Regions from separate parts of the Homo sapiens genome. Here regions 1, 2 and 3 are each linked to region 4. The links come from fine-mapping of genetic effects on gene expression. A gene starts in region 4. Each other region holds a variant in brackets. All regions are shown on one strand. Distances are from middle to middle.

The links. PIP is the estimated chance that this variant, and not a neighbour inherited with it, causes the effect.
Region 1: its variant is fine-mapped to the expression of NT5C3A in whole blood (INTERVAL, PIP above 0.99).
Region 2: its variant is fine-mapped to the expression of NT5C3A in whole blood (INTERVAL, PIP 0.90).
Region 3: its variant is fine-mapped to the expression of NT5C3A in putamen (GTEx, PIP 0.90).

What each region holds. Positions count from the first base shown.
Region 1 is chr7:33,016,819-33,019,506 of GRCh38, reverse strand. It overlaps NT5C3A (5'-nucleotidase, cytosolic IIIA), which reads left to right. Exons shown (of 9, transcript NM_001002010.5): 7 at 1,906-2,068. Among named protein-coding and RNA genes, the nearest start is that of NT5C3A, 45 kb to the left of the region's middle. The variant G/A (reference allele first, on the strand shown) is at 1,373.
Region 2 is chr7:33,038,677-33,041,364 of GRCh38, reverse strand. All of the region lies in intron 1 of NT5C3A (5'-nucleotidase, cytosolic IIIA), which reads left to right. Among named protein-coding and RNA genes, the nearest start is that of NT5C3A, 23 kb to the left of the region's middle. RefSeq lists a silencer at 338-437. The variant A/G (reference allele first, on the strand shown) is at 1,342.
Region 3 is chr7:33,012,789-33,015,463 of GRCh38, reverse strand. NT5C3A (5'-nucleotidase, cytosolic IIIA) reads left to right here. Exons shown (of 9, transcript NM_001002010.5): 9 at 633-1,334. The coding sequence ends at 734. Among named protein-coding and RNA genes, the nearest start is that of NT5C3A, 49 kb to the left of the region's middle. The variant T/C (reference allele first, on the strand shown) is at 964.
Region 4 is chr7:33,061,209-33,063,896 of GRCh38, reverse strand. It overlaps NT5C3A (5'-nucleotidase, cytosolic IIIA), which reads left to right and starts at 1,121. Exons shown (of 9, transcript NM_001002010.5): 1 at 1,121-1,329. The coding sequence starts at 1,192. It overlaps LOC124901610 (a long non-coding RNA gene), which reads right to left and starts at 712. Exons shown (of 4, transcript XR_007060279.1): 1 at 249-712. RefSeq lists an enhancer at 607-766 and silencers at 1,007-1,126, 1,427-1,486.

The DNA.
Region 1 (2,688 bases), 44 kb after region 4:
CTATCACAAAATACATAGTGGTAAGATAAGGAATTTAGAATGACGTATTAGATCTTGGTGTAGGTAGTAAGAGCCTTATGAGATTTAAATTCTAATTTGTATTTTGTTTCTCCAGATTAAAAATGTCAAGACTTAAAATTTTTGAACCAAGGCCATTTAAAAATTTTTTAGCAAAATACTTAGGAAAGACATATGAAAGGAATGTATAAATCAAGTTAAAAGGGATTTAAGTATACTTTTTTTTTTTTTTAAAGACAGGGTCTCTCTCTGTTGCCCAGGTTAGAGTGTAGTGACATAATCTCTTCCTCAGTTCAACCTCTGCCTCCTGGGCTCAAGCGATCCCCTTGCCTCAGCCTCTCAAGTAGCTGGGACTACAGTCATGCACCACCATGCCTGGCTAATTTTTGTATATTTTTGTAAAGATGGGATTTCACCATGTTGCCCAGACTGGTCTTGAACTCTTGAGCTCAAGCGATCCCAAAGTGCTGGGATTATATGTGTGAGCCACCATGCCTGGCAGTATACTATGTCTAAATTTACATAAGCCTACTTTTTAAATTCTCGAACTTCTTTGAAAACTATTCCTAGGAAAGATTAGTATGTTTTAGTACATAATTATATATGTATGCATGAGTTATAAGATACAAGAAGCTTTTTTTTTTCTTTTTTTTTTGAGATGGAGTCTCGCTCTGTCACCCAGGCTGGAGTGCAGTGGTGTAAGCTCCGCCTCCCAGGTTCACGCCATTCTCCTGCCTCAGTCTCCTGACTAGCCAGGACTTCAGGCGCCCGCCACCACGCCCGGCTAATTTTTTGTATTTTTAGTAGAGACGGGGTTTCACCGAGTTAGCCAGGATGGTCTCGATCTCCTGACCTTGTGATCTGCGCATCTCCGCCTCCCAAAGTGCTGGGGTTACAGGCGTGAGCCACTGCGCCCGGCCCAAGAGCCTGTTTAATACTGTTTATTACCTCGTAAAATTTTCAACTCATTAGGCAAATATGATGATGTTACTTTTTTATGATGATGTTATATTTTAAGGTGATTACTTCTAAAAAGGAAAGCAATAAATTGTCAGAAAAAGTGTGAGGACAGCTAGTAAGTGTTTCATTCCTTAGTAGGCAACATTAGCATTCTTTAACCTATGGCCCAGGAAGGGTAAAAAAGGGAAGAGGGCTTAAGATCTTAGTAAAGACACATGCCAGATGTCGAGAATACATCTAAGTTCCTGCCACTCTGCTTTTCTTTTCAATTTTATGGATTTTGATGAAACTGTAAGAATATCAAGTCATTCTTCATAATTTTAAAATCTGAAAATATTTTAATCATGTAAATGTATTTGTTGTTGGTCAATATATATCCATTAAGTTAGGCCAA[G/A]TTGATAGGCCCACTATGGGACTCCATCCTTCTCAGTGTTAATATATCCATGTTTTAACCCCTAAGTGGGGTTTTCAAGGTGTAGCTTAACTATTGTTTTCTCTTTTTAAATTTCATTTTAGAGACAGGGTCTCGCTATGTTGCCCAGAGTGGACTAGAACTCCTGGGCTCAAGCAATCCTCAAGCCTCAGCCTCCCAAATAGCTGGGACTATAGGCATGCACTGCTATGCCTGCCTATTTCTTTTTAAATGGTATAAATTGTGAACTGTAGGTTTATATTCATATTCAGTGAAAGCTTAAAGACATCTAGTTTGTAGTATTAGAATTGATTAAAGGGAAAGTAAAGAGTTAACTGTTGTTTGAAAAACTTGTAGTATTGTAGATATCAATAACAGCCCTCTTGGGCAGTATATTGAAATGAGAATATGAGTGAGCCATAGAATTACTAGGAATATTTCACTTTTTTAGCTTCTAAGTAAAAAGGAACTATATCTTGCTCTTTAATAACCAGTTTGTTATCTCCATCTTACAGAGAAGGATATGAGAATTTCTTTGATAAGCTCCAACAACATAGCATCCCCGTGTTCATATTTTCGGCTGGAATCGGCGATGTACTAGAGGAAGTTATTCGTCAAGCTGGTGTTTATCATCCCAATGTCAAAGTTGTGTCCAATTTTATGGATTTTGATGAAACTGTAAGAATATCAAATCGTTCTTCATAATTTTAAAATCTGAAAATATTTTAATCATGTAAATTTATTTATTGTTACTTAATATATATCCTATATCCAGAAATTAGGCCAAGCCGATAGGCCCACTGTGGGACTCCATCCTTCTCAGTGTTAATATATCCATATTTTAAAAACAATGTGCCCTTCTTAAACTTTCATTCCCCAAGCTATAGACTAATAATAAAAGTAGTAAAACTTCTTCTTTTTTTTTTTTTTTTTTGAGATGGAGTCTCACTCTGTTGCCCAGGCTGGAGTGCAGTAGCACAATCTCAGCACATTGTAACCTCTGTCTCCTGGGTTCAAGCAATTCTTCTGCCTCAGCCTCTCGAGTAGCTGGGATTACAAGCGTCTGCCACCACACCCGGCTAATTTTTGTATTTTTGGTAGAGATAGGGTTTCACCATGTTGGCCAGGTTGGTCTCGAACTCCTGACCACAAGTTATCCTCCCACCTTGGCCTCCCAAAGTGCTGGGATTACAGGCATGAGCCACCACACATAGCCTAAAACTTACTTTAAAATATTTTAATGCAGCAACTTTGAAGCCTTAACATTCATAGTTGGAAAAAGAAGTGAGTTAGAACTG
Region 2 (2,688 bases), 23 kb after region 4:
TCTTCTAAAACTGAAACTCTATCCATTGAGCAATAATTCCCCATCCTCCTCCTCCAGCCCTGGCAACAGCAACCTAATCTTTTTAACTTTGTATTAAAATAGAATATACAGAAAAGTTCACATATCAGAAGTACACTGACAAACCACTGACAAACCAGGTGGAAAGGAATGTTTTTAAGTGTTAGTGTAGAGGTTCCTCTTTTCTTTCCAGAGCCAGTTGCCAGTTCTAATAGTACAGATTTACCTTCTCTTTAATCGTCACATAACTTCAATTGATAATGTTATGTAGATTGACTTGTGACTAGCTCAGAGCTAGCGAGGCTGTAACCAAGAGCATATATAAAGTACTGTGCAGCAGTGCGTCACAAGGTTTTTGCATAGGGCTTAGTCAAGGCTTTTGGAACCGCCCTCAGTTGCACCTTGTGCTATATTAGTACTTCTCAGACAGGAAGAATTTTCTTTTGCTGGTGTAGCTCGTCCGGTTACCTTCAGGGTAAGTGTGTACGGTTCATGTAAATGAGTTTCTCTTGTCTAACTTTATGTGATTCTTATTTGATTCTATAACTTACTGAAATTTTGGGCATTTTGAAATACAAACTTAGGAAATAAAATAATGTTCCAGTATAATGCAAAACTTCTTTATAATTTGTGAAGAAATGAATGTGCAAAACTTTGAAGAGTCTTAGGTCTCAGAAATTACATTTTATATGTTCTAATTTTAAGAGCTTCTTGTTTCACCTGTAGATGTTGAGAAAAAGCAAAGTACCTTCAGAAGTCTCTTTCCAGGTTGAGGGGAAACACTCTAAGATTCAATTTGGTTGTTCATTCAGTTGGCTATGTGACTCAGTTTTACTGACAGCCACAAGCTTTGTGTTACTAGGATTAGGAACAGTTATTATGGGTAGTAATAAAGATTATCAATTTTTATTTTGTGCATGTGAGCTTTACCCAGGATTTTATAGAATGGGATTATCACTGGTATGTTTTATGAATTGATAAAAGCTAGATTACTGATTTATAACAAATTATATATTGAAAATTAAGATTCAAAAATTTATATTACAGTAAAAGCCTAGAATATTATGGCTAAGTTATATTTAAATAATTGAATTATCTATATTTTATAGGTTTTTTTTTCCTTTAAATCAGAGAAGTTAGATCATGCTGCAGATCATTTCTTAAAGCAGTTTGCTTAGTTTTTATTGGCAGCCTGCATCCAAGCCCGGCATCTCTGGGTAGTGCTTGTCACCTATGCTGTTGTCCTAGGACAAATTCAAGGACAGAAGAACTCAGGGTGTCTTAAGGGTTGTCAGTATAAATTACTTAGTTTCCATGTGCTGT[A/G]TGTGGTTTACTTATCTTGAAAAAATGCTATTAGATATTAGAGGTAGTGAATGTGGGAAGGATAGAGGAATAAATTCTAAACATTGAAATTGTTTATTTGCATAAATATCCACAAAATTCTGACTCAGTAGCTGCTTTACCATTTGGGAAAATTGGTTAAAATTGCCCATTTTTAAATAACTAGCTTTTGAAATCTGTTTTTTCCTCTTTCCTCCTATATCTCTTCTACCCCTCCCACTCTTTGCTATTTAGTTTCATTTTTGTTTTATGCCTGTATTGAGAAAGTTTCACTTTGCAGCGTGTGTGTTTCTTTTTCCCCACCGCTGAGTTGAAAATCTAATTAGGAAGAATTATTTAAATGCCCCACCAAATTATTACAGCCATACAGAAAAGATGAAGTTACAGTTTGATTTTGCATGTGCTAATCACCCGAAGACAGTAACATTAAAAAAAAAAAAAAACAAAAAACCCAAGCTTAAGAAAGTCAAATAGTACAGGTTACTGAAAAAGTATAGGAAAAATTGATGTTTGGTACTGTTGCGGATACTGTGTCCATATTATGGTAATATATGCCTTTTCTTATGTGAGTAATACACAGTTTAGCATTCACAATTTTATTACCTTATCAATGTAGTTTACATGTTTCTGCGAGTATCACAATTAAAGCAGTCACAGTTTTTAAAGCTATATTCATGAATTTAATCTTTTTCACTTTCCTGTAAGACAGAGTCAAGTAGACCTTTAAAAGTAATCAGTTTGCATTCAGGTACTTTAAGACTTGCTTTAAATCAGGTAATTTTTTTTCATGTAGACATACCAATCAATTTTCATTAATTGACTTGTAAACTATCATCAGAATGAAATACTGTGATAACTAAAGTTTTCAGTTATCAAGTTTGTGTTAAGTGAAGTTCTTACCTCTTGCTTCAGTCTTTAGACTTGTCCTACATATTCCTTGTAAAGAACTCTGCTATAGTAGAGACCTTAATCTCATACAAAAAGCACACAAAGTAATTATTTTCCAGTTTCCACATTTTCCAGTTCACATTTAAAGACTCTGAAGACTTAAAATGTTAAAACTTCCTTTGAAGAGAGTTCGTAGATCAAGGGCAGTATTTTCTATTTTTGAACACGTCTTCTACACTTGATGTGTTTTTTCCAGCAACTCTTCTCTTGAAGCATCTGCAACAGATGACCATTGGCAAAGTAAGCCAGAACTTTATATACCAGGTATAGGTTTACAAGCCTATTGGTTTAAAAATACTCTGCCCTAATTTTCAGTGTCTTCCTTAGAATAGTGCCAGAATGCTGACATTTTACACCTGAGTCTTTACACTTTTTAAATGA
Region 3 (2,675 bases), 48 kb after region 4:
AGCCCCTCAGGTAGCTGGAACTACAGGCGCACACCACTACACCTGGCTGATTTTTAAATTTTTTTTAGAGATGAATTCTCCCTGTGTTGCCCAAGCTGGTCTCAAACTCCTGGGCTCAAGTGATTCTCCAGGCCTCTCAAAGTGCTTGGGATAACAGGCGTGAGCCACTATGCCCAGCCAAAACATATTGTGATCATGCATTTTGATTGTTCTTTATACTGGTGATGTTTAAAAAGGAGCTGAGATGCATGCTATAGGTACTGGGAAAAGGGAGGATGTGTATTCTGTAGGAGGCCTCTGTGTCTTCTGCCCACTAGATGCTGGATAGCAGTCTCCTGCCATGAGACTCAAAAATGTCCCTAGACGTTACTAAATGTTCCGTGGACAAAAATCACCCCATTTGAAAGCCACTGGACTGGAGAGAGAGCATTTTGGGGAGAAAAGCTACCATGTGGAAAAATGTCTGTCAGTGGGTCTTAAGGATTTGAAAATATTTCTTCATTTCAAAGATTTTTTGAAAGTGAATTTAATTTATTGCATTTTGCCCAAGAGATCTAACAACGAGATTCATACTGAAATTATTTGTTTCTTTGCCCTGCATGTTAATTTTCTTTTGTTCATCTCTTGATTAGGTGGATGAGCTTTTAGAAAAGTACATGGACTCTTATGATATTGTTTTAGTACAAGATGAATCATTAGAAGTAGCCAACTCTATTTTACAGAAGATTCTATAAACAAGCATTCTCCAAGAAGACCTCTCTCCTGTGGGTGCAATTGAACTGTTCATCCGTTCATCTTGCTGAGAGACTTATTTATAATATATCCTTACTCTCGAAGTGTTCCCTTTGTATAACTGAAGTATTTTCAGATATGGTGAATGCATTGACTGGAAGCTCCTTTTCTCCACCTCTCTCAACACACTCCTCACCGTATCTTTTAACCCATTTAAAAAAAAAAAAAAGC[T/C]AAAATTAGAAAAATAACTCCCTACTTTTCCAAAGTGAATTTTGTAGTTTAATGTTATCATGCAGCTTTTGAGGAGTCTTTTACACTGGGAAAGTTTGTAGAAATTTTAAAATAAGTTTTATGAAATGGTGAAATAATATGCATGATTTTAAGTATTGCCATTTTTGTAATTTGGGTTATTATGCTGATGGTATCACCATCTCTTGAAATTGTGTTAGGTTTGGTTATTTTGTCTGGGGAAAAAATATTTACTGGAAAAGACTAGCAGTTAGTGTTGGAAAAACCTGGTGGTGTTTACAATGTTGCTAATCATTACAAAACATTCTATATTGAAGCACTGATAATAAATATGAAATGCAAAACCTTTTTAATTCTATGGTCAAAACTATCTTTACTGAGTCAACAAATATTTATTGAGCACCTACCATGGTTTTTTGTTTTCTTCTTGTTTCTTTCTCTCCGTCTGCCTGTCTTTTGTGATATATAAATTCTAAAGTCCTTGTCATAGTGGCTATTTAGATTGAATATTTTCAGAAATTATTTAAGTCTAAAGATATTTCAGGGAAAATTTTGTCTGCCCTTCAGAAAATACTGAGACCTCTGAAAATTATTTTCTCCCATTTAAAACATCAGTAAAAGGTACAAGTCTGCAAGTTTCAGAAGCCGAGACAGGAAGCAGTGGAGCTGGGTCTCGTGGTGACTGAATCTGAGCAGCACTGCGACATTAGGAGCCAGCATCTCTCTGTACAGTCCAGCTACCCACTCCACATCTCTGGCTCTGCCTCATCATTCATCTTCAGGATTTAGACCTGCCATTGTGATCAATTTGACCGTGATTCTTACCCTTAATTCCAGATCCTATGAACACCTAATTGGTTTGCTTATATAAGCACCTGAGCTATGATACACACAAAGCATGATCTGATTCATTCTGGCCATCCAGTGTGAGCAGCAGTCTCTAGTTCAGTCAGATGTGGCTGGAAGGCAAGGTCACATGTTAGGAAACCTTTTTGTCCTGGGAATGCCCATCCTTATCCTCCCCCACCACTCCTTTTCATCATCATAAGCAATGAAGCAGGCCAGGCACGGAGGCTCACACCTGTAATCCCAGCACTTTGGGAGGCCAAGGCGAGTGGATCGCTTGAGCCTAGATGTTTGAGATCAGCCTGGGCAACATAGGGAGACCCCAGTCTCTACAAAAAATTAGCCAGGCATGGTGATGCACCTGTAGTCCCAGCTACACAGGAGGCTGAGGTGGGAGAATCACCTGAGCCTGGGGAGGTTGAGGCTGCAGTGAGCTGTGATTGCACCACTGCACTCCAGGCTGGTCAACAGAGCAAGAACTTATCTCAAAAAAGCATAAAAATAATGAGGCCAGGTGCAGTGGCTCACATCTGTAATCCCAGCATTCTGGGAGGCCAAGGCGGAGTTCAAGACCAGCCTGGGCAACATGGCAGGACTCAGTCTCTACTAAAAATACAAAAAATTAGCCAGGCATGATGGTGCGCACCTGTGGTTCCAGGTACTCAGGAGGCTAAGGTAGGAGGATTGCTAGAGCCCGGGGGGCCAATGCTTGCAGTGAGCTGAGATCATGCCCCTGTACTCCAGCCTGGGTGACAGAGCAAGACCTCATCTCAATAAATAAACAATGAAACAAAAATGCAATGGCAAAAGGCAGACTAGACCCTGCCTAAGTGTTTCTAAAATCAAAC
Region 4 (2,688 bases):
AAGTCATATTGGTATTTGGTGCAAAACTGGATTCATAAAAAATTACTTTGGCGACAAAATGACACAGTAGTCTAGATATTGATACTCAAATATTCTGGGTATTAAAACTCAGTCTTCTTCAGGTTATACTCCCAGCTAACTTACTTTGGGACACGTTCTCGGTCTATACTGAGTCTGTGTTCCCAGGCTTAAGTCCTCAAACTTGGCCGAGTAATAAAACTAACCATGATTTCTTTAAGTTTTAGTACCTGTTATTTCACCTTTCGGTCGACAAATCGTTTTTCTCATGTTCCTCTGTCTTACATCAATTTAATTTGTAGACCAGCCAAATGACCTAAAAGGCTAGAAGGAAACAATTTTTCCTCCCCTACAACTATTTCCTCTAGTCCTCCGGCTGAAAGTTGTTCCACGTCCTGGGCAGAGAGAGCCCCACCAGGCAGCACCACCAGCTCCACAGAGTTGGAGCGATTCCCCCAAGAAGCTCCCCTGCGCCCCTCCTCACCCCCAGAGACCAGCAGAAGAAATGGCATCTATCCCTTGGAAGACACTAGGCAGGAGAGAACAACTGCAAGCCCTTCTGCTCACACAGAAAAAAGGATGGCGGAGGTGGCGAATGGGATGTAGCAGAAACCCCGCGGCTGCGGCGGAAGGGACACCGCCCCTCTCCAGCCTAACTCTGAGCCATCTTCCCCCTGTTGTTATAGCACTTAGAACGGACGCCACTGCGCAGGTCACACCGTGCCGCGCAGCCTTCTGGGGGTCGGAGTCCAGAGGGGCTGAGGCGCGAAGGCGGAGACCGACTTCTTAGCGGGCCGCAGTTGGAATTAGATTTCTACTGGGGCGGGGCTCGAGCGAACCACGGCCTAATCCTCATTAGCAGAGAAGGATAATTACCGCAATACTCTGCCCTGCCCTGACAGCAGCTCGTGAGACCCTGAGTCTGCTGAAGGCCGCCTCCAGCCTGGGCTCCGGGCACAGGCCACACCCCTCCCGCCGCGTCCTGGCCTCTCCCATCGATGGCGTGTGGGTGGGGCTTCGTGGGGGCGGAGCTGCGCGGGGCGGGGCGTCGCTGCGCGGGGCGGGGCGTCGCGGGCTCGTCCGTGATGCTCTGGGATCCCGCGCTTCCGAGACTCGCAGTCTACGCGAGCTGCCTGTTTTTTTCCTGCTTGGACGCGCATGAGGGCCCCGTCCATGGACCGCGCGGCCGTGGCGAGGGTGGGCGCGGTAGCGAGCGCCAGCGTGTGCGCCCTGGTGGCGGGGGTGGTGCTGGCTCAGTACATATTCACCTTGAAGAGGAAGACGGGGCGGAAGACCAAGATCATCGAGATGGTGAGTGTGGAGGCTCGGCGCGCCCAGAGCACGCGAGGGGCCGGCTGGGCCGTCCGCTGGCCTCGGCAGCCTGTGCTGGGCCGCTGTTCGGTCGCGACGGGGAGCTGCCGGCGTCGCCTGTCAGGCTGGGATCTCGCTAGCTCGGGACGCGCAGCTTGGGGGACCCGGCCGCCCCGCGTGCGGCCACTCCGCGGGCTTGGTGACCAGGGTTGGGTCCCCGGCTGCGGCCCTTGGCTGCCCGTGGTCTTTGTTAGGTTTCCGTTTGAAGGAACAAGGCAGAAAATAGATGAATCGGACACAGGCTACTTTGTGCTGCAAAACCCGTTTCTCTAGAGATAAGCTGCATGTCCTGGGCAGGTGGCTCCTTCTCTCCCTGCCTTGCTCCCGCCCTCCCCCCGGATCCGCGTCAAACCGTTGCCGCTAATCTAGTTGCAATTCCCGCAGAGGACTAGTTTTATGTTGGGGCTGCCGTGAGTTAGATTATGAAAATGTGCAATATCTAAAATTTTACAAGAATGGCAATCCAGGAGAAATTCAGGATAGTTTATTTTGTATTTGAATGTATTCCTTCTTGTCTCAAAACTCCCACGAAATATCTTTGTTTTCATCTTAACTCCCAAAGCTCTTGTATACATTTTCGAATTTAATTTTTTATTGAAGAGGGTGTCTCAAGAATTCCCTTTGAGATACATTATAAGTAATTGTTTCAAAAATGAGGATATTTAGTTTCGTTTTGTATTTTAATTAGAACCCACTCAGGAAGACAATTCTTGCACAAACTTGCACGCTTATGTATTTCCTGAAATGCATAATCCTGGGTATACGCCTGACCGTGTGCTATACATGTGAACATCTAGGGTCAGATGATTTATGATAGAAAAAAATTTAAAATCTACACTAAATAATATCATTTTAGGGTGTAATACTTGGAATTTCTGAGCACCTGCAATATGTTCCAACTGACGAAAGACACGATTTGTCCTATTGGTTGTACTGACCCCAGGTTGAATACAGATGTATTTGCATAATTAAAATTAGCCAGTGTCCCAGCTATTTGGGAGGCTGAGAGGAAGATCACTGGAGTCTGGGAGTTCAAGGTTATAATCACACCTGTGGATAGCTACTGCACTCCAGCCTGGGAAACATAGCGAGACCCTGTCTCTTAAAAAAAAAAGTTAATTCCCACTTGTCTCATATTCCAATAATATTCCCTAATTTTGAATTAATTTATTCTTAAAGGGTCTTAATAATTCTAAAGGCTTATTAAAATTCATTTGTCCCACATCTGTATGCCCACAGCAGCAAATGGTTTTAACTCAGAAGTTTCATTTTGCTTTTGTTGCTTTCCTGCTTAGAAAA